Linked DNA regions of Homo sapiens. The protein of the gene in region 5 interacts with the protein of the main gene of each other region in a biochemical or structural test. Each region holds a gene or a part of one and is shown on either strand. Other genes may lie near its edges.

Region 1 (3,500 bases), on a different chromosome or scaffold from region 5:
TCAACCTGCTTTCTTTCAGCTGGAACAAGCTTCATGTTTTTTGGGGACCTCACATGACTTTACCTCCCCTCCCCTCTGCTGTTTAGACCAGGAGACTCACTCACCAGATGGGAAGTCAGGGGTGGAGCGGTAGCTTGGTGTTGGAGACCGGGGAGACAAGCTATGAGTGGGGGAACCTGGGAGGCTCTCACCCGATGACAGGGATCTGTTCAAGCAGGAGAAACTTCGGCTGGTGTGGAGTAAAGGAGAAGGCTGCTTGGCTAGCTTTTTGAAAAGAGATCTCCTCCTACAGAAAAACAGGAAAAAATTGTTCAGTCTTCTTTCAGAACTATTGCTGCCTCCCCAAAATACCATTGTGCTCAGCTCAATAACTCCGTGTGAGGGACAGGGATACAACAGCAGATCCTATTAAAGAGCAGAACACCACTTTCCTATTAGAAACCTTCTTATGACATGTAAAGGAAGAGTATTTAATAGTAGACAATGGAGCCTCTCTCAATTCCAAACACTTAAGAAGAGTTGGAAAAATAGGAAAAATATAAAATGCATTAAAAATACATTCATTTACTTGTTAGGTATATGAGGAGGATGCTCTTTGCTTGAAAGCTTCTGAGTACCTACCCCTAAATATGCAGACACAACTTAACTAAGAGATAATACAAAGTAAACCTCTGGAAGCAAAACCATTGTATTGGAAATCAAATTCTTTAATGGTGATAGGCTGGGCAGAGGCCAATGAAGGGCTATTTGCTGTGCTTATTCCATTGTGGGCTCTTGAATATTCCTAACAACAATGCAGGCTGTACAACGACATAGAAAAAACCGAGAAAGGTGAAGCTGAAGCGTATCGTATCAGCAGGGCAGCAGACACTGTACTGCAGCAGAAGCAAATGTGGATTTGGTACTCAATGAGCACATCTTAAGGCAAAAGCACAGCTTCTGACACCTTAGCAGGGCATCGGGCTGTGCAAAGTTCTTTTACCATATAAGCCTATATATGGTAAGATCTAACCCACTCCACATAAGCTTAAAACAAAGTTTCTGGTTGCTAGCCCTTGAAACAATTTGTTCTAAATGATTTAAAGCACAGCCAAAATATAAAGCATAATAATAAAGAAGATCTTATGTGTGTGTAATTTTAATCAGAGTAATAAATGTACTTGGGTGAAAAAGTCAAATACTTCTATAAACATACAATGAAAAACAGCAACTCCTCTACTCGAATTTTTCTCTACTCCCCAAAGAAGTCGCTTTGTATTCTTTTACCTGTTTCTTCTCCCATTTGTCTACATATTGCTAAATGTTTGTACACTGCTATTTTTTAGTTTTTCAGTTTTAGAAATTACCTGTTGATTTTCTACTATGAAAGATGATAATTAAGCTCTTATACAACCACCTTCTACCTTGCAACCAAATATATTTCCCCTTTTCTATTCTTCCCAATATAGCGAAAGCAAAATTTTTGGTTAGAAAAACGGCCGGTATTTTATCTTATATTATAAATATTGTTCACAGCTGGGCCATATGAAACATAATTCTGTTCCTTTCTTGTATAACTTTTTTTCCCCCCAGAGTTAATACATGGCTTTTCGTTTGCTTGTTTTTCTACATTTCTATCATCAAAAATCCTTTTAATATGATGTGACTCATCAGGCCCAATTGAGTAAAGAAATGCTGTGGCATTGCAAAGGAGGCACACCCAGAGAGCTGCCTGGCAAGAAACAGCCCTGCCAGAAACACATACCTCTTGCTAGTGTCTGCAAGCAGCACAAAAAGATACTGATCAGTGCTTCCCAGGCTACAAAAGTATATAAGCTAGTTCGTTTTTCAGTGAGTAAAACAAAGCCCTTTTATTTCTAGGCTTATTCGGAACCTTTAAAGGTAACAGTAATTTTAGAATATCTGGCATTTTAAAAATAGCAACTGTTTGTTTTTTGATAACGTAAAGGACATTTTAAATGTAGATTTAATGTTAAAAACCACCTGAAGATCCAGTTCCTCAATCCAACTCAACTGAAATCAAGTGAAGAGGCTTAAAAAACAGCAAAGGGCTTTTCCTGACATTCACACATGATAAAAAACAATCTGAATCCTTCCACAATGTAAATATGTAAATCCTTTTACTATGGAAGTTGATGCTATTATGAATATGGATTTTAATGTATACATATATGTGAACCATAACATAAAATTTCTCACAGAAAAATAGATCTTCTTCATATATAAGCATTTAATTAAGGGGTAACTTTTCCCCAACATAGGTATACACCAAACTTAAAAAGAATACTGATTTTACTAACCTTTCGAGACTTTCTTTCTTCTTGGATTTCTTGCTCCGCCTCACCATCCGGCTCTTATAGCTGTTTCTCCTGGCTGGTCCAGTTTTGATTGATGTGTTTTCAAATGGGGTAGTAGTGATTGACACCTTATTCCCACTCTAAAGAAAAGATGAGGTGGCATTAAAGGGAAATGCTGTGATGAAGCAAGATCAGAACAGAGATGAGAGATTCATAGACAAATACAAATAGAAAGGAACATACATATAAAAGGCCTTCTGTTTCTAAATAACCCTTCAATCAAAGAAGTCCTGCCAGAATACAAACTGGGTGGAAGGCAAAATATGAAGTTTCTTTACGAGGGTGAGTTCTGGAGTCCACAGATCTGAGTTCAAATCCAAGCACTGTGCCCTTACCAGGCTGCTACCCTCCCTACCCTCAACTTCCTGTACCAATTAACAATATAATCCTACCTATCTCCTGGGGCTCATTTGAGGATCACATGAGAGCAAGTCTGTAAAGCCTTTTGCACCCAGTGCAACACAAGGAAAGAACACTATAAATAAGATAACTACTTCTTCCACAGGTATTAAGTATTAATGTTCCCAGTGGCTGGCTGCTCTTGGTTGATTTTTCTTTTTTCTCCTTTTTGTGTTTTTCCTTTGGCCTAAAAATTGTAGAGTAACAAAACCGAATGAGACTTTTATTTTTAATTATTTTAAAAGGCTCCTTTTCTATCACCATAAAACCTATCAGTTTGCAGAGCTGGAACATTTATGCCAGCCAGTAGGAAACCTCTTTTTAACCAGGTCATACAGGGTAAGGTAATTTCTGTGAGTTTCGGTGTCCTTTCTCTCAATCCTGGGAAGGGGCTTGCTGGGCAGCCTCTAGGGATGGAACTGAGCGTGGAGTCAGCAGTCAGGCCGAGGGGGGCCCAGGGCAGGTGGGTAGTCCCTGGCATCAATTACCCTTCCTGAATTTCATAATAACCAGGGGAGAAACCTGTCCTTTCAAGGTCACAGATGGCCCCGATTACCATGAAAGTACAAGAGGTACAAGGAAAAGGATCTTTTTAAAGGCCCATGCCTGGAAGATACCTAGAGCTCAGCTCAACATGGTACCAAGTGAAGGGGAGTTGGGGGGAGTTAGGTATGGTGGCAGCAGAGGACTGAAAAGACAGGGAATGACTGTCTTAAAGATAGCATCTACCTTCCCCCTTGATTT
Region 2 (2,731 bases), on a different chromosome or scaffold from region 5:
CAGGGGTCACAACACCCGCACGGGAAAAAGCCACGTGGGCAGCGATCATCTCTGATGTGCAGGGAAGCAGAGAGCTGTGTGGGGCTGAGGCACCACTGCCCTCTTGGGGTCAGGCTCAGAGTCTGGAGCCACCTCCCCCTGCCCCCACATGGCACACCCTGCTGGGCGCCATGAGCACATCGCGTCTCACCTTCCCCAACACCCCCTAAAGTGGCTTCTCATGCCCACTTTGCAGAAGCAGAAGCAGCCACGGTCACACGGGGGGTGCCCCAAAGCCAGTGCTCCCTTTGTCAGCCCCACTGCCCCACAGTCCTACCCCATCCCCACAGTTCCATCCTGTCCCCAGTTCCAGTCATCCCCGCGCCAGGCTGGCAGGTGGCACGTGACAGAGGCAGAGCCAAATCATGGCTCTCAGAGGCCACGCGTAGAAAAGGCCCTGGTCTCACCACGGTTTAAGAGGAAACCAGCCCTGGCACGTCAGGGGACCAAGGATTCCAGAATTTTCAGTTACCTTTTTATTTTATTTTCAATAGTTTTGGGGGAATCAATTACCTTTGCGGACAGGGTTTTGTTTAAAATCAAATCTTTATTCAAAAGATAGTCAAGGCTGACAACTTATGCAGTCTGTGACAAAGAGCAAGTCAAGGCAAGGAAAAAGCTCTCACAAAGAACGTAGCTCTGTTCTCTTAAAATGTGTAACTGTTTTCCTGGTAGAGCAAAATTTCTTGAAAGGGGCCCAGTTGCGACTTTAAGCAGCGTTTAAACAGCCTGCCTCCGTGTCCAGCATTTAAATCAGCACAAGAGAATCGGCTGCCTGTGGGCCCTGCCTGAGCCTCAGCCTAGCTTGGAGTCTGAGGCTCCAAGGAGGCCTGTGTGTATAAGCCATCCCATGGTCACCCTCCTGGACACGCCCCCCTCATGGCAGCCCCCACCTTAAGCAGCAGGCCGGCTGCAACCCATCATCCGAGGGTGGTTGCCCTTTGCTGCAGGAGGGCGGGAAGCCCCCCCTGCCTGCCCTGCCCTGCAGTGGCTTCAGGCATCTGGGATGGAGTGGTCCATGGTGTGGTGGAGCAGGACTGGAGGCAACCTGGATACAGCAACAACAGTGACCAGGTTGGCAGCTCCTTCTCTCCACCCTCCAGCAACCTCCACCCCCTTCCGAGCCAGTGCATCCCATGTGGGCCTTCACTCCCAGTTCTAAGACTTTCGAATCACCAGAAGCCACAAGCTACCTTGGAGGGAGGGGAAGGGAGGATAGAGCTGGCTGAGCCTGTGCCCTGTGTCAGCACTGAGAAAGTGGAAGTGGCTGAGCCAGGTGCACCTGGGAGGCCGGGAGGTGAAGGGGATGGCAGAGGAGGGGTGAGGAGGGGTGAGGAGGGGTGCAGCCTTACTTTTTGACCATGTGCTCGTAGATCACACTGGGGATGATGGTCAGGGTGACAACGTTCCCAGCCGTGGCCAGAATCTCCATGATCTTTTTGTCCTAGGGAGGAGGCAAGTAAGCGATCACCCTAAGGATTGGGGACCAGGGGCAACTCTACAGGCCCCTCTGTGGAGGGATCAGCATGGCCACTGCTAGAGGACACCACTGATGGCTGACTGCAGGGCAGGGCTGCCTCGGACCCCGAGCCTGTCAGATGAGGGTCCCAGCAGACTCCCAGGTAAGGTCTTGCTTGAGTGAGAACATGGGTCTCCCACCTGAGGATCTCCTTGGTCAAATGAGCATGCCTCTTCCCACCCTCAGCTTGAAGGCCAGCGGTGTGAGCCTGACGCGTAACAGGGCCTCATCAATGCGATTCTCCTCCCCCTTCCAAGGGCTCCCAGAGACTCACCAAGCCCACAGTCACATTTGGGTTCTGGCCTCAAAGCATAAATGCCTCCCCATCCTGTGGGAGGTACTAGGCGTACCCATCCACCCTCTGGCTCCTGCTGCCTCCAGGGCCATAAGGATCCTCCTCCTCTTACATCCTCTTACATTTGCTTGTTTGATAAAAAGAGATGGGCCTGCAGACACCACTTAGATCATGGGAAGAACAAGAAATTAAAAGTCTCTACGCAAAGCGTGCCAGGTGGTCCAAACACTAACGTTATGGCCATAGAAGAGCCTCTGGCCCTCACTCAGAGCCTATTGACCTTTACATTACACATGTATGTTATCTGGTTATGTGTTTTCTTGGTTGTTCGAAAATAAATGTGAGAAGATGTGCTAGACAGGACTAGTGATGGCCACAGGTGGAAATAAACTTTGAAAAGACAAACGATCTCAAGAAGTGTGGCTGGCTGGGACAAACCCAGTTCTGAAGAACCTCACGACCCCATGGATTTCTGAATAACGATTTTCTAAAACATTCCTAAACTACTGAACATGATCCACTATACCAAAAAAAGTGCCATACAGAGCAAGGAGGTGTCCATGCAGCCAGCAATAGCTATTATGTATTAAGCACCTGCTATGTGCCTGGCACTGTGCTCAGAGCTCTAGGTACACTGTCTTTTTTTTTTTTTTTTGGAGACAGGGTCTCTCTCTGTTGCCCAGGCTGGAGTGCAGTGGCATGATCATAGCTCACTGCATCCTTGACCTCCCAGGCTCAATTAGTCCTCCCACCTCAGCCTCCTGAGTAGCTAGGACTACAGGTGTGCACCACCACGCTTGGCTAATTTTTTAGTTTTTTTTGTGGAAAGAGGGTTTCACATTGCCCAGGCTGGTCTCGTGCTCCTGGACTTAGTGATC
Region 3 (3,500 bases), on a different chromosome or scaffold from region 5:
CCCATTAAAAGGCTGAAGCAATCCTGAGCCCCCAGAAGATTCCCAAGGAGCACTGTCTTCGCCATCCCTTGTGTGGCTGAGCCCATCTGTCCCTGCCCTTCCATGCCTACCCACCTGGGGCTCAATGTCAAGGATGGCAATCTTGTTCTGCTTATGGATCTGGTGCACTGTTTCAAATTTGGTGCCAAACATGTTGCCTTGGTAGCTGCCAAACTCCAAGAACTCATTGGCAGAGATGTTCCTCGTCATCTCCTCCGTTGAGATAAAGTGGTACTCCTTCCCATCTTCCTCACTCTTCCTTGGCGGCCGTGTTGTATCTGTGTACAAGAACCCAAATCCCCGACAAACTCCAGGTCCTCACCCTTTCATGAGGGCTTGGACCATGGTGTCTGTATGGAAACCCTAGCTGCCTTTGGTGCATTGACTTTAATACAGGGGTTCCTCCCGTGGGCTCCTGAAGAGCTGATGCTAGAAAGTGATGCACACCAGGAAATCCCTCCATCTGCCCAGGACACATTTAATTTTTAAGGGGCAAAGCCTAACATAGAAAATTCCTATTATCATTTTCCCTAAATGAAGTTACATCTCTCAAACTACCAAATCTAGGAATATTGAAACTTAGAAATGAAGATAGCGGAAAATATTTTAAAAACAGATCTACAGACTATGGTCAGGATTTCTTGGAAATATATTTAAGGTTTCCTTTTCATGACTTGGAAAGAAGAGTACTTTGGTTTAGTTTCAGCTCATGTTGTTAAAAGTTGGACTATTTTCTATTACTCATATAAATTGTCTAATCAGTAAAATATGCTCCAGATATTGTAGCTTGAAACACAATCCTCCCAACCTCCCCTCTTTCCATCTTCCATTGACTGTCTCCTTTGCCTTCCGGATCACACTTGTCTCTCAACTGGCCCCTTCCCCTCAATCTACAACCACATGTGATTCTCTTGAAGGAGGAGCCTGTACTGGTTATTTCTGCTTCCCCACTCACTCCTGGGGCCATCTCTTTCTGCTCCTAATGTGACACTGGAATAACTCTTATGTCCCTCCAGCAACGAGACAACTCTCAATGATCCATGTGTAAAAAAGCAAAATGAAGAAAGAATTAAAAAATAGTAATATGAGGTTTAGAATCTGGTTTTCTATTTTGCTTAGCAGTACAGTAATTCCTCACTTAATATTATTATCAGTAGGTTCTTAGAAAATGTGACTTTAAGTGAAATCACATGCAGCTGGTCGTTGACTAACATGGTTTAGTTCAACTTCATTTCATTGTATTGTTGATGAGTAAAAAAACTGGTTCTTGTTATATGTCATTTCACTTAAAGTCACAGTCTTCGAAGAGCCTATTGACAATATTAAGTGAGGAATCACCGTATTTCTTTCTGGGAACATACACAACTATACCATGCAGCATCACTTCTGGGAATGGAAGAGTTATCAAATTCTCCACCTGATCACTGGCGCTACTCTTCTCCATATCTAGGACTGCTGTTGAGATCGTTTGGGCCTTTCCTAGGCACTGCTTTGATTTAGAAGACATTCCATGAAAATGAGAGGCAGCCTGAACATCAAGAGTGGGATAGTTCTCAAAGAGAATTAGGCAAATTGCAGAGGAACATGAGAAAATGTTTAAAAAGTAAAATGACAAAGTTATATGTATAAACTTTAATACTTAGTAATTTTTAAGGCAGTATCAAAATGTTTACTATAGCTTCTGTTATGTAGACAAACAGCACGAATAACAATAAGAAAACAGTTATTCTGTTAGGTGGAGGAATTGTGGGCACAAATTTTTATCTTTCCATATTTTGTTTAGTTTTAATAATCATTTAAAATAAAATAATTTAAAAAATAATAAAATAACACTATGGTATTTCAGATGGCGAGTGGTACCAGCCTGTCACCTCCCCTCCAAGGTGCCTAAGAGCTACTTACATGGGACAGGGTACACAAACTTCTCCGGATTCTGGCTGAGCAGGGCATTCTTAATGTGGCTGCGACCCACCCCACTGGCTCCTGTGTAGAGAGAGAAGAACATCTTTTGGAAAGGGGGGAGAGGAGCGAGGATAAGATACGGATTTTCCTCTCTCGGCACTCAAAACTGCCAACAGGTGAACATGAGTTGGGGTTGCATCTGGGCTGGGGTCAACTCTAAAGACAGGAAGGTGAGCAGTCCGCCAGAGGCAAAGCCTACATACCTGGGTTTGAAGCAAGGACTTACTCTGTTTCAGGTCAGAGTCACTGCTTGGGGGAAGGGAGATTTACAAAGCGTATCACTGCCAGCAGACAGCATGAAACCTAACCAAAAATAATTCGTTGCTAAATAGTAGAGAAACTTGTAAGGTTTAGTTTCATTTGTGAGGTGGACCCAGGTGGGGTGCACGTGAGGATTCAGAAAATTCCTTACACCTGCTCTATATGGAGAACCCAAGAGACCTCAGTTCTTTTCTTCCTCACTGCCTTTTTTGGGGGTGGGCACGTGATGCAGGCAGGAAAACAAAGACAGAAATGTGCAAATGGGGCAATGAGAAGATACCGATCAGCACCAGGGTCTTCCTCTTGAATGCAGGGAGCCGAACGACTTCCTCGTAGGAAACAACATCCAACTGATCAAAAACTAGAGACAAAGAAAACCAAGCAGTGTTCATTTCCAGAGCTAGGGAGAACAGTGGTCCACACTCTGAAATGGGAAACAGCCTCGCGACATCTCAACAAGCAGGGAGGAAGTGACTAGAGATGAGACGAGGGAGGTTGGTGTGGAGGAAGGACTTTGGACTGTATTTTTAGTGTGGTGAGGGAATTTTGAGCAAGGGAGTTTATCTAACTTTTGCACCCTCTCTTCCTCCTTGCCCTATCTCTCTGAGCCAACTTTTCTTGTCTCCTGTCCTCATCTCTTCTCCATAGTTTCAGTATCAGATGTTCCCTTGGCACTTAGAGCTGAAGAATGCCAATGCTATCTCGGTTCTGCCTGAATGTCCCTTATCTTAGAAGATGGTGGTGCTATTGACCCAGCTGCTCAAGATAGAGACCTGGTGTCATCCTGACTCTCCACCCCCTTACCTGCCTACAACCCAAGACTGCCACGATCATTCCCTGGCTGGTGGTGTGCACGTGACGTCTCAGAAAAGAGAAATGCAGATGGAAAGCTGACCGTGCGAATTCTCTGCTCAAAACCCTTCACCAGCTCCACAGTCTATAGTGCAAAATTTAAAACGCTAGGGAGGGTGCACGAAGCTCCCTATGACCTGGCCCTGGCCTCTCCCTCTGGCCTGTGTTCTTGCCTCACTTCCCCTCTCCCACCACATCTACTTCTGTGTGAGGGGTGGGGTGATGAGCAGGTGTGGGCTCACCACTAGTCCTCCTTTACATCCACTGGCCTGACTGCAGCAAGCTTGTGAAGATGGATTCAATAAAAAGAAACCAGAAGAAATGACATGCTTTCTGTAGAATGCGCCTTCTGCTGCGCACTGCACCACCTCCCCTTTTCTGCTGGT
Region 4 (3,500 bases), on a different chromosome or scaffold from region 5:
CCCAAGTGTAGTTTTAAAGTGCTGACTAGTGTTTCTAAGTGCAAGAAGGATGTGATATACCTCATGGAGAAAATATGTGTGTTAGATAAGCTTCCTTGAGGCATGAGTTATAGTGCTGTTGACTATGAGTTAAATGTTAATGAATCAGCACTATATATTAAATAAAGTGTCTTTAAACAGAAACAACAGTATGTATTGATCAGCTAATTAAAATGTTGTGACTTTTGGCCTGGGGGAACCTAACCCTGTATTTTCCCTAGAAGCAATGATTAAATAGTCTCTAATTTAGCATGTACAAAGACTTTCTAGAGCATGACAACATCGAATGGTGAGAATTAACTCAACTGACATATACAGTGATATATTTGGGCTTAAAAATAATTTGGAGGTTAGTATTTAGCTAAGATTGGCCACTAGTTGATAGCTCTTGAAACTGCGTAAGAGGTATGGGGGGACTCTTTTATACTATTCTCTCTACTTTTGTATAAATTTAAAAATGACTATTAAAAATGTCATTTGCATAATTTCCTTTTCTATGAATTGTCTTTGCATGTCCTTCATCCATTATTTTCATTGTTCTTTTTTTTTTTTTTAGACGGGTCTTGTTCTGTCACCCAGTGACAGTCATGTGATCATGGCTCACTGCAGCCTCAACCTCTCAGGCTCAAGCAATTCTCCCACCTCAGTCTCCTGAGTAGCTGGGACAACAGGCATGCACCACCATGACTGCTAATTTTTATATTTTTATATTTTTATTTTTATTCGAGAAATGGGGTCTCAATATGTTGCCGAGGCTTACTTTTCTTATTCATTTATGAAGCTCTTTGTATATTAAATAAGCTTTTTCTAGTATTTAAAAAATTCCATTTGTCATTTGATTTTAGTAGTTTTTAAGCATACCAAAAATAACAAATTTTACCTTGTCAAATTCATCTCTTTAAGCTTAGACATGTATCTAAGCTTAAAAAACCTCCCCTTGAGATTTTAAACAATTTTCACATATTTCCTTCAAATAATTTCATAATTCCACTTTAAAAATTACATTTTGATATATTTGAAATACATGTTGGCATCAAGAGTGAGTAGAGGTAAAGTATTTATAGATGAACGATATGATATAAAGATCTGCTTCAAAAGAACCTGGTAAAGGTGAAACCAAGTTTGTCATCAGTTGACAAGTGCTGAAACTGAGTGATGTGTACATGAAGGTTGATTTTACGGTTTGCTTTAATTTTGTACATTTGAAATTTTCTAATTACAGAGTTAAGAAAAAAATAGTAATTTTTTTTTCCAGGTAAGAAAAAAAAATGCCTCTTTACAATGACGTATTCTAGACTAGTGGTCCCCAACCTTTTTGGCACCAGGGACTGGTTTCTTGGAAGACAATTTTTCCATGGAGTGGGGTTGGGAGGGTGGGAGGTGGGGATGGTTACAGGATGAAACTGTTCCACCACAGATCATCAGGCATTAGATTTTCATAATGAGCATGCAACCTAGACAATTACTGGTCCATGGCCCAGGGGTTGGGGGCTCCTGTTCTAGACAGTTGACCCAACCACCCATTCACTGGATAGTCTATCTCCAATGATCTAAAAGGCCACCTCTACCATAAACAAAATTCTAGTATCTAAGTCTATTTATGAACTGGACTATTCCATTCCACTGCTCTACCTGTATTAATACACAAGTACCAAAATATTTTCTTTAATATTACTTCAATAATATTTTTCATAGCTGAAAGTTTTAATATTCTATCCAGGTCAGGATTTTAACAAAAAGAACCTCAAAGTTCATAGTGGCTCGTATTTTTCCAAATGGCAAAGGCATAATAAGAATAAACTTACATTTATATAGTTCGCATTGATGTAGTCTTCATTACCTTTTAAAATGACCCGTGTGGCATCATCTAAAAAAATTTAAAAGAAATAATGTTTTAGTAAAGTTATGTTTAAAAGATTAAATTTAACAGAGACAATAAGATACTTACAAGGCGAAATATCTCTGTATCTATTTTTGGAAATATTCTGAGGTAATTTGGCACAGGACATTGTCATTCCAGGTTTTTTCCGATACAGTTGCTAAAAAAAAAAAAAAAAGGTACAATTCCAACAAAAGCCATAAACAATTTCTCTTTTGTTTACCAGACTTGTTTCTACACTAACAGGAAACAGGTTTCTTTGCCTTTGAATAGGTCATCTATACAATGATATACCATAGTCTAGTAGAGTACTGAACCAGATTTGCAAAGCTGAATTCTTCAGTTTCTAACATAAATTATGTGTCATATTTTGAAAAGTGGTAAAACTAGTGAAACCAATTCTGCTTACAGCAGGAGCACCTGAAGTTGTGAGTAGCAAATCTGCAGAAAACATTTAACTTTCATTTAGTTTGGAGGTGTTTACAGTCTATGAACTAAGAACTTTTGAACAAAAACAGACATATCCTAAATGTTTTATAGTTAAACACTTACCTATAACATATATGTCAGAACAACAAATATTAATGATGGTCATTTCTAAAAACACATTAAAAACTATCCAGGGAGCCTAGCATGGCTGTGCATGCCTGTAATTCCAGCTACTTGAGAGGCTGAGGCTGGAGGATTGTTTGGACATAGGAATTTGAGATCAGCCTAGGCAACATAGTGAGAGGCCGCTTCTCAAAAAAAAAAAAAAAAAAAAAAATTCAGGTTTATTAATTTAAACAAATTAGGTTGATATAGTCTGAATAAAACATTTCAAAATCCACTGGGTGATCGTGGGTCAAAATGCACATTATAAGCACTGAAGAAGCATTCTAGTTCATTGGATATAATGATCTGTCTGAAAGTTTTGGTTTTTCCAGTTTTCAAGATTGCACCAATGAAAAATAAACAAAGATTAAATGACAAGGTATAAACTTCAAAAATAAAAGTTATTTTCCTTTAGCTCAGGATTTTATTTATTTATTTATTTATTTATTTATTTATTTATTTATTATTTTTTTGAGATGGAGTCTCACTCTGTCGCCCAGGCTGGAGTGCAGTGGCGCGATCTCAGCTCACTGCAAGCTCTGCCTCCCAGGTTCACGCCATTCTCCTGCCTCAGCCTCCTGAGTAGCTGGGACTACAGGCACCTGCCACCACACCCGGCTAATTTTTTGTATTTTTAGTAGAGACGGGGTTTCACCGTGTTGGCCAGGATTGTCTTGATCTCCTGACCTTGTGATCCGCCCGCCTCGGCCTCCCAAAGTGCTGGGATTACAGGCGTGAGCCACCACACCTGGCCAAGCTCAGGATTTTAAAGTATATAATAGCCTATCTTCATCTGCCACCTTTCAAAAAAACAGCTATTTAACTATAGAAAAAAATTTAGTTTGATGACATATGTATAAAATTTCCTTATCCCTCTTTTTAAAACATATTCTATTTATATAACCATAGCTAGTATTTTGGGAGCAATTTTTAAAACTTGGCATTTTAGAACTCTTTATGTCAAACATTTCTCAGAATATCATTTTAG
Region 5 (3,500 bases):
ACAACAGTGTGATCTCGGCTCACTGCAACCTCTACCTCCTGGGCTCAAGTGATTCTGGTGCCTTGGCCTCTGGAGTAGCTGGGATTACAGGCGTGCACCACCATGGCCGGCTAATTTTTGTATTTTCAGTAGAGACAGGTTTTCGCCATGTTGGGCAGGCTGGTCTCAAACTCCTGGCCTCAAGTGATCCACTCTCCTTGGCCTCCCTTTCAAGTGCATGCAACATTCACCAAGACACATAAACCACAAGTCAGATCCCAAAGTGTTGGGATTACCATGCCTGGCCTAGGATGGTTATTTCTTTTGATGAATTTATACCTTAACTGTTACGAAATACCCTTCTTAATCCTCAGTGGTACTCTTTGTTCTGGAGTCCACTTTATGTGATAGTAATGGAGCCACTCCAGATTTATTTTGATTTGTGTTTTAATGATGTTTTTCAACCCTTTACTCTTGCCCTATTTGCGTCTTTATATTTAAATTGAGTTTATTATAAATGGCATGTCTCGTCTTGTTTTTATCCGTTCTGACAACTTTAATTTCCTTTAACTGGACTGTTTTGCCATTAGCTACATGTGGCTATTTAAATTTGGTTATTTAAATTTGGATTATTAAATGTGGTTATTTAAATTTGGATACAAATTAATTAGAATTAAATAAAATTACAAATTGAGTTCCTCAGTTGTATTAGTCACATTTTAAGTGCTCAGCGCTCAGACAGCACAGATATAGACATTTCCACATGGCAGCATGATGTATTGGACAGCTCTGTTTAGACCATTTATACTCAATGTAATTGTCTATTGTTGGATGTAAATCGGCTGTTTTGCTATTGTCCCATAGCTCATTGATGATTTTTTTCTAACCTTTTTCTCTCTTTGCTTCATTTTTGATAGTTTTTGTTGCTCTGTCTTAAGATTTAGTTATTCTTCTGCTCTAAGATGATGTTATTCTTATCCATTGTATTTTTCATTCCTAAGCTTCTATTTTGTCTTTTTTTTTCCGTTATGCTCAGATTTTCCTTTGTATCATTGAGCACATTTTTAAGATTTGTCTTAAGGTTCTTATCTGCTAATTTTGCCATTCCTGTCATTTTTTTTTTTTTTTTTTTTCTTGAGACAGAATCTTGCTCTGTCACCCAGGCCGGAGTGCAATGGTGCGATCTCAGCTCACTGCAACCTCCACCTCCTGGGTTCAAGCAATTATCCTGCCTCAGCCTCCCGAGTAGTCGGGATTACAGGCACGTGCTACCACGCCCAGCTAATTTTTGTATTTTTAGTAGAGACAGGGTTTCGCCATGTTGGCCAGGCTGGTCTTGAACTCCTGGCCTCAAGTGATCCACCTGCCTCAGCCTCCCAAAGTGCTGGGATTACAGGCGTGAGCCACCACTCTTGGCCTCCTGTCATCTTATGGTATGTTTCTATTGATTGATTGATTTTTTAATTTTTTGAGATGGAGTCTTGTGCCCTGTCGCCCAGGCTGGAGTGCAATGGCGCTATCTCAGCTCACTGTAACCTCCGCCTCCTGGGTTCACGCCATTCTCCTGCCTCAGCCTCCCGAGTAGCTGGGATTACAGGCACGTGCCACCACACCTGGCTAATTTTTTGCCTCTTTAGTAGAGACGGGGTTTCACCATGTTGGCCAGGCTGGTCTCGAACTCCTGACCTAGTGATCTGCCTGCCTCGGCCTCCCAAAGTGCTGGGATTACAGGCGTGAGCCACCGCGCTAGGCCTCTATTGATTTATTTTTCTCCTATATTGGTCATATTTTCTTGCTGCTTTCATGCCTGGTACTTTTTGATTGGGCAGTAGATATTTTGCATTGTCTAGTACTGGATTTTGTTATTCCTTTAAAGAGTGTTTGATTTAGTTATGGTCTGAGGTTAAGTTACCTGCACATTAGCCTGTTCCTTTTGAGACTGGCTTTTAAGCTTTGTTTTGAATGTTTATCTGGGGCTAAACTTTAGCTGTACTATCTAGTTGTGACCCTTTAGAGGACTTTACTATGTGTTACAGGGTTACCATCCTCTAGCTCATGGTGATATGAAGTGTTCCTAGACTTGTATGATCTCTGGTAATTGTTGAGCCAATTGCTTTCCTCTGGTGCTTTCCCAGCTTTGGGGCATCTACACATTGTTATGTGCGGATAAGTACTTGGCCAAACACTCAAAGAGAAACTGTTCAGATCTTTGGAGTGCTCTCTTTGGAGCTCTCTAGTTCTCTGCTCCACAAATTCTAGCCGCCTAGTCCTTCTTGACCTCTGATCTCTGTCTCTTCAATGTGACAGGACTTCTGGATTATGTGACCTCTGTCCTGCAGTCTGGAAACTGCCTTCAAGCAGTAAGTTAGGGCAGTGATAGGGCCCACCTCATTTGTTTCTCTTCTCTCAGGCATCACAACACTGCTCTGCCTGTTGTCAAGTGTCTGAAAACAATTATATTTTGTCTAGTTTTCTAGTTAATGGCGAGATGGTAACTCTAGGAGCAGTTAATTGTCCAGGAGTAGTTAATTATTTTTCATGAGCAGAAGCAGAACTCCATCTTTTCATCTTTTTTTTTTTTTTTTTTTTTTTTTGAGACTGTGTCTTGCTCTGTCACCCAGGCTGAACACAGCTCACTGCACCTGCACCCTTAACCTCCTGGGCTCAAGTGTTTCTCCCAAGTAGCTGAGACCACAGGTGTGTGCCATCATTCCTGGCTAATTAAAAAAATTTTTTCGTGTGTAGAGATGGAGTCTCTTTATGTTGCCCAAGCTGGTCTCTACTGGGCTCAAGTGACCCTCCTGCCCCGGACTCCAAAAGCGTTGAGATTATAGGCATGAGCCACCACATCCAACCCCTTTATCTTTTAACAATGTTTTAAAAATGTGAAAACAGTTCTTAGCTTGTAGGCCATACAAAAACAGGCCATTTCCCAATCTCTGCTTCAGAGTTACTGTAGGATAAAACTCCAAAAGTAGGCTTGGTCAAAAGATACCCATTTAAAATTAGGATATATGTTGTCAAATTGCTCTCCAAAAAGACTGTGCCAATTAATACTCTTGGCAGTAGTATATTGAGAATGTTAAGATGCTTTATTTTTATTTTTTATTAATTTTATTTTTTATTTCTCTGACATTTAGTATTATGTTCAACTCCAACTATAAATATCCCGGCCTCTCCGTTTATGCAGAAGCTTGGCTTTGGTACTGGGGTAAATGTGTACCTAATGAAAAGGTAAGTATAAGATTTCAGATTAACCTTTTTTCATGCAACTATAATTCTACTGTACTTGGAGACAAAGAAGTAGTCTGAAAATTCCAGTATTTAGATTCGGTTGTCTGCTCCTGATCCTGGCTGATGGCTGTATTCCGGTCCCTAGACCCTTTTGTAACTTTGCCTGTAGCTCTGCCTCTGCTTTTCTCCTAGCTTCCTCCTGATGGGTTATTAAAGGGGAAGTCATTTACTTTTTAATTTTTCCTTGGCTTCCATAAGAAGGGGAAGTGGCAGGGGAAAGGGTTCCT
Region 6 (3,500 bases), on a different chromosome or scaffold from region 5:
TGGTTTCATGCAGAATCTAGCTCAGGGATTGTGAGAGTGAAATGAGATCGTGCAGCTAAGTGTTAGCAATGCTTAATACTGCCTACGAAAGAAAATATCTTTACGCACTGAGAGCCATAGCTCTGGAGTAACATGGTCCCTGAATCCCCACTTAGGAGAAACAGGTGACCTGGACAAGGAACTCAATCTCACTGACCCTCATTAAGTAAATTTAATTTTTTTTTTTTTTTTAGAGGTAGGGTCTCACTCTGTTACCCAGGTTGGCATGCAGTGGCACAATCATAGCTCACTACAGCCTCGGCCTCCTGCACTCAAGTGATCCTCCCACCTCAGCCTCCTGAGTAGCTAGGATTACGGGCACGCACCATGCCGGGCTGCTTTCGTTTTGTTGTAGAAATGGTGATATGGTTTGGATTTGTGTCCCCGCCCACATCTCATGTTCAACTGTAGTCCCCGGTGTTGGAGGAGGGGCCTGGGGGGAGGTGACTGGATCACAAGGGCAGATTTCCCCCTTCCTGTTCTCGTGATAGCGAGTGAGTTCTTATGAGATCTGGTTGTTTAAACGTGTGTAGCACCTCCCCCTACTCTCTCTTCCTCCCGCTCCAACCATGTAAGACATACCTCCTTCCTCTTCACCTTCTGCCATGATTGTAAGTTTCCTGAGGCCTCCCCAGCCATGCTTCCTGTACAGCCTGCAGAACCATGAGCCAATTAAACCTCTTTTCTTATAAATGACCCAGTTTCAGGTATTTCTTTATAGCAGTGCAAGAACGGACTAATATAGACAGCATCTCACTGTGTTGCTCAGGCTGGCCTTGAATTCCTGGCATCAACGGATCCTCCCACCTTGGCTTCCCAAAGTGCTGGAATTACAGGTGTAAGCCACTGTACCCAGCCAGAATTAAATGAATTAATATGCCCAACAGTGATAGTTATATAAGTGATAGCCATTGGCTGGCCCATAGAAAGTTCTCAACTAATGTCATATCCTTTTTTTTTGAGACAGAGTCTCACTCTGTCACCCAGGCTGGAGTACAGTGCTGCCATCTCAGCTCACTGCAACCTCCGCCTCCCGGGTTCAAGAGATTCTCCTGCCTGAGCCTCCTGAGTAGCTGGGACTACAGGCGCCCGCCACTAGGCCCAGCTAATTTTTGTATTTGTATTTATTTTATTTATTTATTTATTTAATTATTTTTTGAGACGGAGTCTCTGTCACTCAGGCTGGAGTGCAGTGGCGCGATCTCAGCTCACTGCAACCTCCACTTCCTGGGTACAAGCGATTCTCCTGCCTCAGCCTCTCAAGTAGCTGGCATTACAGGCATGTGCCACCACGCCTGGCTAATTTTTGTATTTTTAATAGAGACAGGGTTTCACCATGTTGGCCAGGCTGGTCTCGAACTCCCTACCTCAGGATCCACCCACCTCAGCCTCCCAAAGTGCTGGGATTACAGGCATGAGCCACTGCTCCCAGCCAGTTTTTGTATTTTTAGTAGAGACAAAGTTTTACCATGTTGGCCAGGCTGGTCTCAAACTCCTGACCTTAAGTGATCCACCCCGCCTTGGCCTCCCAAAGTGCTGGGATTACAGGCATGAGCCAGCATGCCCGTCATATCCTTATAGTTACACTGAAACCCGGTGACCCGAGTCACCCTGCAGGCAGATGGGCAGGATGGGTGGTTGGGAAGCATGGCGAAAGGGCAATCACCTGGCTGGAGTTTCCCGTCGTTGGCTGCAGCCCCCTTCCTGATGAGGTGGGTGATCTGGAGGTAGGGTCCATGCTGGATGATGATGAGGCCTAATCCCAGGCTACCCACAGTGAGTTTGGTCTGCTGTGTTTTGCTCAAGTTGTGTACAGATGTTTTGACCTTGTTGCTGACTCCTCTTTCTAACCAAAAGAGGGGAACTTATTTCAGTCCTTCACCAAGACAGAAGCATGGCCATACCTACTGGGGTTCTGAAGCCAGATCCCTGGGACAGTTATTTAATCCCTGTTCCTCAGATTCCTTGTCAGTAAAATGAGGATAAAAATGTTCACCTTGGAGAGCTCTTCTGAAAATTAAATGGGTGCATTAAAGGGCTTTTGCAGAGTCTGGCATATTGTGAGTGCTTAATCAATATTAGTTAGTATTATCTGTTCACTTAACAAATATTTATTGATACAGTGTGCTAGGCCCTGGGTTTACCATGGTGAGCAAAACAGATGTGTTGGGTTTTTTGGTTTTAACAGACAATGTCTCACTCTGTTGCCCAGGCTGGAGTGCAGCAGCATTATCAGGGCTCACTGCAGCCTCGATCTCCTGGGCTCAAGGGCTCCTCCCACCTCAGCCTCCTAAGTAGCTGGGACTACTGGCATGTGCTACTATACACGGCTAATTTTTATTGTTTTTGTAGAGACAGGGTCTCACTATATTGGCCAGGCTAGTCTTGAACTCCTGGACTCAAGCAATCCTCCCACCTCAGCCTCCCAAAGTGCTGGCATTACAGGTGTGAGCCACCGTGCCTGGCCCACATGTGTTTCTTGTCCTCATGAATTTTACAGCCTAGTGGAGGGGACAGATATCAATCAGTCATGTAAATATATGTTGGATAACAAACTGTAACTCATGCTATGAAAGAAAAGGACGGAGGGCTCTGAGAATGAGTAACAGAGGGCCAAAGTCTCATCTGGGGATGGCGGGTCAAGCTTCCAGCAGGGCTAAAATTTGAATTAAGGCCAAAAGGACCAATAGGAAATATTTAGGCAAAGAAAGGTGGATCCGGAGCAAATTGTGTTAAGGTCTGAGAAAGGAAGGAACAGTCCCTGTCAGAGGAGGGGGAGGCAGGAGGAGCGAGGACCAACCAGACAGAGGCTGCTTCTCAGACTTCCTTAGTGAAAAGGCTCCGAAGTGAGTAAAGCTGGACATGGTTAGATGAAATGAAATGACATGAAAATGACAGGGTCCTGGCACATGTCATGGCAGTGACAGCGGAAATGAGCAGTGGATGGATCCAAAAAGCACATGGGGGAAAATCCGAAGGCCTTGGAGACAAGGGGTAGTGGGAGAGGTTGAAATATGTTTTCTACAGAACCAAATCTCACAAGAAAAATTTCAGGGACTAAAAGGACATTCAAAACAACAAGTTAATTTCCCAAGAGGAAGTTGCTAGGAAACTCCTTTTCGGTACACAGGAAGCTCCTGGGGAGATCTGTTTTCAGCACACTTTTCCAGCATTTCACACACAACTCCTTTCCATAAGGACAGGTGACACACAAGCTTGCCAAGTCCATGTGACTGTGGTGTTTTCAGGGCCACTGCTGAGGGAGAGGCTCCCCCAGCTCCCTACCTCTGGCTGTGGGGAGCTGGAGGGGTTCATGGCCCTTTCCTCTAAAGCAAATGTCCTTGCCCATCTCCAACCTCACCTTCCCCCAAACCACAGATGCTCTCTGTTTGGGAAAATAAAATAGCATAATATAAACAAGATACCATCTTCAGAGACCTTTCAGGGTTCTGGGAGCAACT
Region 7 (3,500 bases), on a different chromosome or scaffold from region 5:
TGGTAGAAGAACAGAGAACAGAGAACCCAGAAACGAGACCACACACCCACAACCATCTGATCTTTGACAAACCTGACAAAAACAAGCAATGAAGAAAGGATTCCCTATTTAATAAATGGTGCTGGGAGACCTGGCTAGCCATATGCAGAAAATTGAAACTGGATCCCTTCTTTACACCATATATAAAAATCAGCTCAAGATGGATTAAAGACTTAAATGTAAAGCCCAAAACTATAAAAACACTACAAGAAAATCTAGGCAATACCATTCAGGACATGGGCATGGGCAAAGATTTCATGATGAAAACCCGAAAAGCAATTGTAACAAAAGCAAAAATTGACAAATGGGATCTAATTAAACTAAAGAGCTTCTGCACAGCAAAAGAAACTATCATCAAAATGAAGAGACAACCCACAGAATGCGAGAAAATTTTTGCAATCTATCCATCTGACAAAGGTCTAATATCCAGCATCTGCAAGGAACTTAAAACAAATTTACAAGAAAAAAATAAGCCGGGCACAGTAGCTCACTTCTGTAATCCCAACACTTTGGGAGGCCGAGGTGGGTGGATCACCTGAGGTCAGGAATTTGAGAATAGCCTGGCCAACATAGCCAAACCCCCTCTCTACTAAAATTACAAAAATTAGCCAGGTGTGGTGGCATGCACCTATAGTTCCAGCTACTCAGGAGGCTGAGGCAAGAGAATCACTTGAACCCAGGAGGCGGAGGTTGCAATGGGCTGAGATTGTGCCACTGCACTCCAGCCTGGGCAACAGAGCGAGACTCCATCTCAATAAAAGAAAAAAATAACCCCATTAAAAAGTGGGCAAAGAACATGAACAGACAGTTTTCAAAAGACATACATGCGGCCAACAAACATGAAAAAAAGCTCGACATCACTGATCATTAGAGAAATACAAATCAAAACCACAATGAGATACCGACTCACGCCAGTCTGAATGGCTATTATTAAAAAGTAAAAAAACAACAGATGCTGGCAAGGTTGTGGAGAAAAAAGAACGCTTTCACACTGTTGGGATGTAAATTAGTTCAAACATTGTGGAAGACAGTGTGGTGAGTCCTCAAAGACCTAGAAGCACAAATACCATTCAGCCCAGCAATCCCATTACTGGATGTATACCCAAAGGAATATAAATCATTCTATCATGAAAATACATGCACTCTTACGTTCATCACAGCACTCACTATTCATGATAGCAAAGACATGGAATCAACCTAAATTCCCATCAATGATAGACTGGATAAAGAAAATGTGGTACGTATACACCAGGGAATACTATGCAGCCATAAAAAGGAACGAGATCTTGTCCTTTGCAGGGACATGGATGGAACTGGAAGCCATTACCCTCAGCAAACTAATGCAGGAACACAAAACCAAATACCACATATTCTCACTTGTAAGTGGGAGCTGAATGATGAGAACAGATGGACACATGGTGGAGGGACAAGACACACTAGGGCCTGTCAGATGGTGGGGAGTGGGGGAAGGAGAACATCTGGAAGAATGGCTGATGGATGCTGGGCTTAATATCTAGGTGATGGGATGATCTGTGCAGCAAACCACCATGGCACGTCATTACCTATGTAACAAACCTGTGCATCCTACACATGTACCCCTGAACTTAAATGTTGGAAATTTAAAAATAAATAAAGTTCTTAGAAAAGAAATCCACATCACAGATAGAACAAAACCATCAGAATACAGCATGCTACAGCAGGCAGATAACAATCATCTCCTACAGAGCAGAGGAAGGAGCCTTTCTGTAGTCAGCCTGGTGCGTGTAAAATAAGCCCCTAGTAGCTAGATGCTGAGCTGCCTAAGGCCCCACTCATCACATCTTAGGTAACAAAGCCCTGTACCATGGTAGCTATTAATAATGGTAAAAATCACCTGGAGGCCTTGTTAACACACAGATTGCTGGGCCCCACCCCCAGAGTTTCTGAGCCAGAAGGCCCAGGATGGGGCCTAAGACTGCATTTCCAACAAGTTCCCAGGCGCCACTGATCCAAGAACCACTGGACAAGAGCAAAGAAACAGCTTCCTGTGCCAGGTGAGGGGATGAAGAGAGGGTCACCCCATGACTGCAGTCACGTCGGGCAATCGCGGGGCTGACAGACAAGGGCCTTAGCTCTCTTGTTCTTTCAGAAAGTGAGTCCCTGTATGCTGACCAATCCTTCCGAACCAAAAATTGAGACACATGTTCACACAATGGACATTTATTAATTGTTTATTTTTACTGATTAGAGATAGCATCTCGCTATGTTGTGTCTCAAAGTCCTGCCCTCCAGCGATCCTCCCACCAGAGCTTCTCCAGTAGCCACTGTGCCTGGCAACAAGGGGCATTTAGAATACATGGTTGACTGTATTTTGACCACAATTACCCCGCCCCTCTCTTGCCATGCTTACCTCCAGTCAGTGGTTCCCTACTGGGGGCAGTTTTGTCTCCTAGAGAGCAGTTTCGATTGTCACAGTGAAAGGGGATGCCACTGGCGTCTAGTGGGCAGAGGTCAGGGATGCTGCTGAACATCCCAAAATACACAGGGCAGCCCCACAACAAGGACTCATATGGCCCAAAATGTCAATAGCACCAAGGCTGAGAAACCCTGCTCTCGATGGAGTAGACTTCCCCATCCTGACTTTAGCCAACGTGAGCAGATGTGAGCCTTATACAGGCAAAAGCACTAAGGGCACTTGTGTGGTTTGGCCCTGTTCCCACAGAGGTATTGCCTCTGCCATGAAAACAGCAAGCACCAGAGTGCCTCTCCCTTCCCTGGGCTTGAATGAGAGGACTCGGGGCCTGGTCCAGCCCTGCCAAGCCCAGCAGAGCCACAGCTATCCGGTAGCCCTCATAAATACAGATTACCCACTGCTGAATAATACAATATGAGAGATGGTTTGGGGTACTTGGCTGGCTTATGGGGAACAACAAGAGGGTATATGTGAATGCAGCCTGAACTCTCAATAGCCCTATCATGCTGCCATGGCTCAGACTTAGGCTTCCCCCCTCAGAGCTGGGACTATTCATCGCTGGGAACCGATGCACACAGATGTCCACCTGGCAGCACATGAGATGGGGCTGAGATTAGGAGGCTCCATGGTTTTAAGTGGTGAGCTCTACAGATGGGCTTGGGGAAGACTCAGTTCTGCCCCACCAGCAGGTGCATAAGGAGAAACCACCTTGGTGCTTCTGTTCTCCCCGAGCCTAGGGCAACTTCTTGCCCTTCCCAAGCCTTCCTCCCTTCCTTTGGGAGGAGGCCAAAGTTCCAACTTTGTTCACCATATATTTTACCTGTATTAATTTTTTTAATATTGCATTTAAATGTCATTTTTTTTCATGATTATTGAGTTTTCCAGTGCCCCCTTAAATTCTGCACTCAAGGCCGGGCGCAGTGGCTCATGCCTGTAATCCCCAGCACTTTGGAAGACCAAGGCGGGCAGATCACTTGAGGTCAGGAGTTCGAGACCAGCCTGGCCAACA

What was found.
Region 1: the proteins of PBK (region 5) and MAST4 interact in a test that uses a peptide from one of them, tested with the Homo sapiens proteins (one large-scale study listed by IntAct).
Region 2: the proteins of PBK (region 5) and SDCBP2 interact in a test that uses a peptide from one of them, tested with the Homo sapiens proteins (one large-scale study listed by IntAct).
Region 3: the proteins of PBK (region 5) and MPP1 interact in a test that uses a peptide from one of them, tested with the Homo sapiens proteins (one large-scale study listed by IntAct).
Region 4: the proteins of PBK (region 5) and PTPN4 interact in a test that uses a peptide from one of them, tested with the Homo sapiens proteins (one large-scale study listed by IntAct).
Region 6: the proteins of PBK (region 5) and PDZD9 interact in a test that uses a peptide from one of them, tested with the Homo sapiens proteins (one large-scale study listed by IntAct).
Region 7: the proteins of PBK (region 5) and PDLIM1 interact in a test that uses a peptide from one of them, tested with the Homo sapiens proteins (one large-scale study listed by IntAct).

What each region holds. Positions count from the first base shown.
Region 1 is NC_000005.10:67,159,393-67,162,892, reverse strand, and holds part of MAST4 (microtubule-associated serine/threonine-protein kinase 4), read right to left. Parts: intron 2,438-3,500; coding exon 2,301-2,437; intron 287-2,300; coding exon 105-286; intron 1-104.
Region 2 is NC_000020.11:1,309,409-1,312,139, forward strand, and holds the end of SDCBP2 (syntenin-2), read right to left. Parts: intron 1,484-2,731; coding exon 1,392-1,483; intron 1,088-1,391; coding exon 1,033-1,087; 3' UTR 501-1,032; downstream 1-500.
Region 3 is NC_000023.11:154,781,486-154,784,985, forward strand, and holds part of MPP1 (55 kDa erythrocyte membrane protein), read right to left. Parts: intron 2,624-3,500; coding exon 2,543-2,623; intron 2,023-2,542; coding exon 1,942-2,022; intron 318-1,941; coding exon 115-317; intron 1-114. UniProt on the Homo sapiens protein: Essential regulator of neutrophil polarity. Regulates neutrophil polarization by regulating AKT1 phosphorylation through a mechanism that is independent of PIK3CG activity.
Region 4 is NC_000002.12:119,955,422-119,958,921, reverse strand, and holds part of PTPN4 (tyrosine-protein phosphatase non-receptor type 4), read right to left. Parts: intron 2,079-3,500; coding exon 1,988-2,078; intron 1,907-1,987; coding exon 1,845-1,906; intron 1-1,844. UniProt on the Homo sapiens protein: Phosphatase that plays a role in immunity, learning, synaptic plasticity or cell homeostasis. Regulates neuronal cell homeostasis by protecting neurons against apoptosis.
Region 5 is NC_000008.11:27,827,818-27,831,317, reverse strand, and holds part of PBK (lymphokine-activated killer T-cell-originated protein kinase), read left to right. Parts: intron 1-3,119; coding exon 3,120-3,213; intron 3,214-3,500. UniProt on the Homo sapiens protein: Phosphorylates MAP kinase p38. Seems to be active only in mitosis. May also play a role in the activation of lymphoid cells.
Region 6 is NC_000016.10:21,994,617-21,998,116, forward strand, and holds part of PDZD9 (PDZ domain-containing protein 9), read right to left. Parts: intron 1,886-3,500; coding exon 1,706-1,885; intron 693-1,705; exon of another isoform or gene 647-692; coding exon of another isoform or gene 622-646; intron 1-621.
Region 7 is NC_000010.11:95,239,004-95,242,503, forward strand, and holds part of PDLIM1 (PDZ and LIM domain protein 1), read right to left. Parts: intron 1-3,500. UniProt on the Homo sapiens protein: Cytoskeletal protein that may act as an adapter that brings other proteins (like kinases) to the cytoskeleton. Involved in assembly, disassembly and directioning of stress fibers in fibroblasts.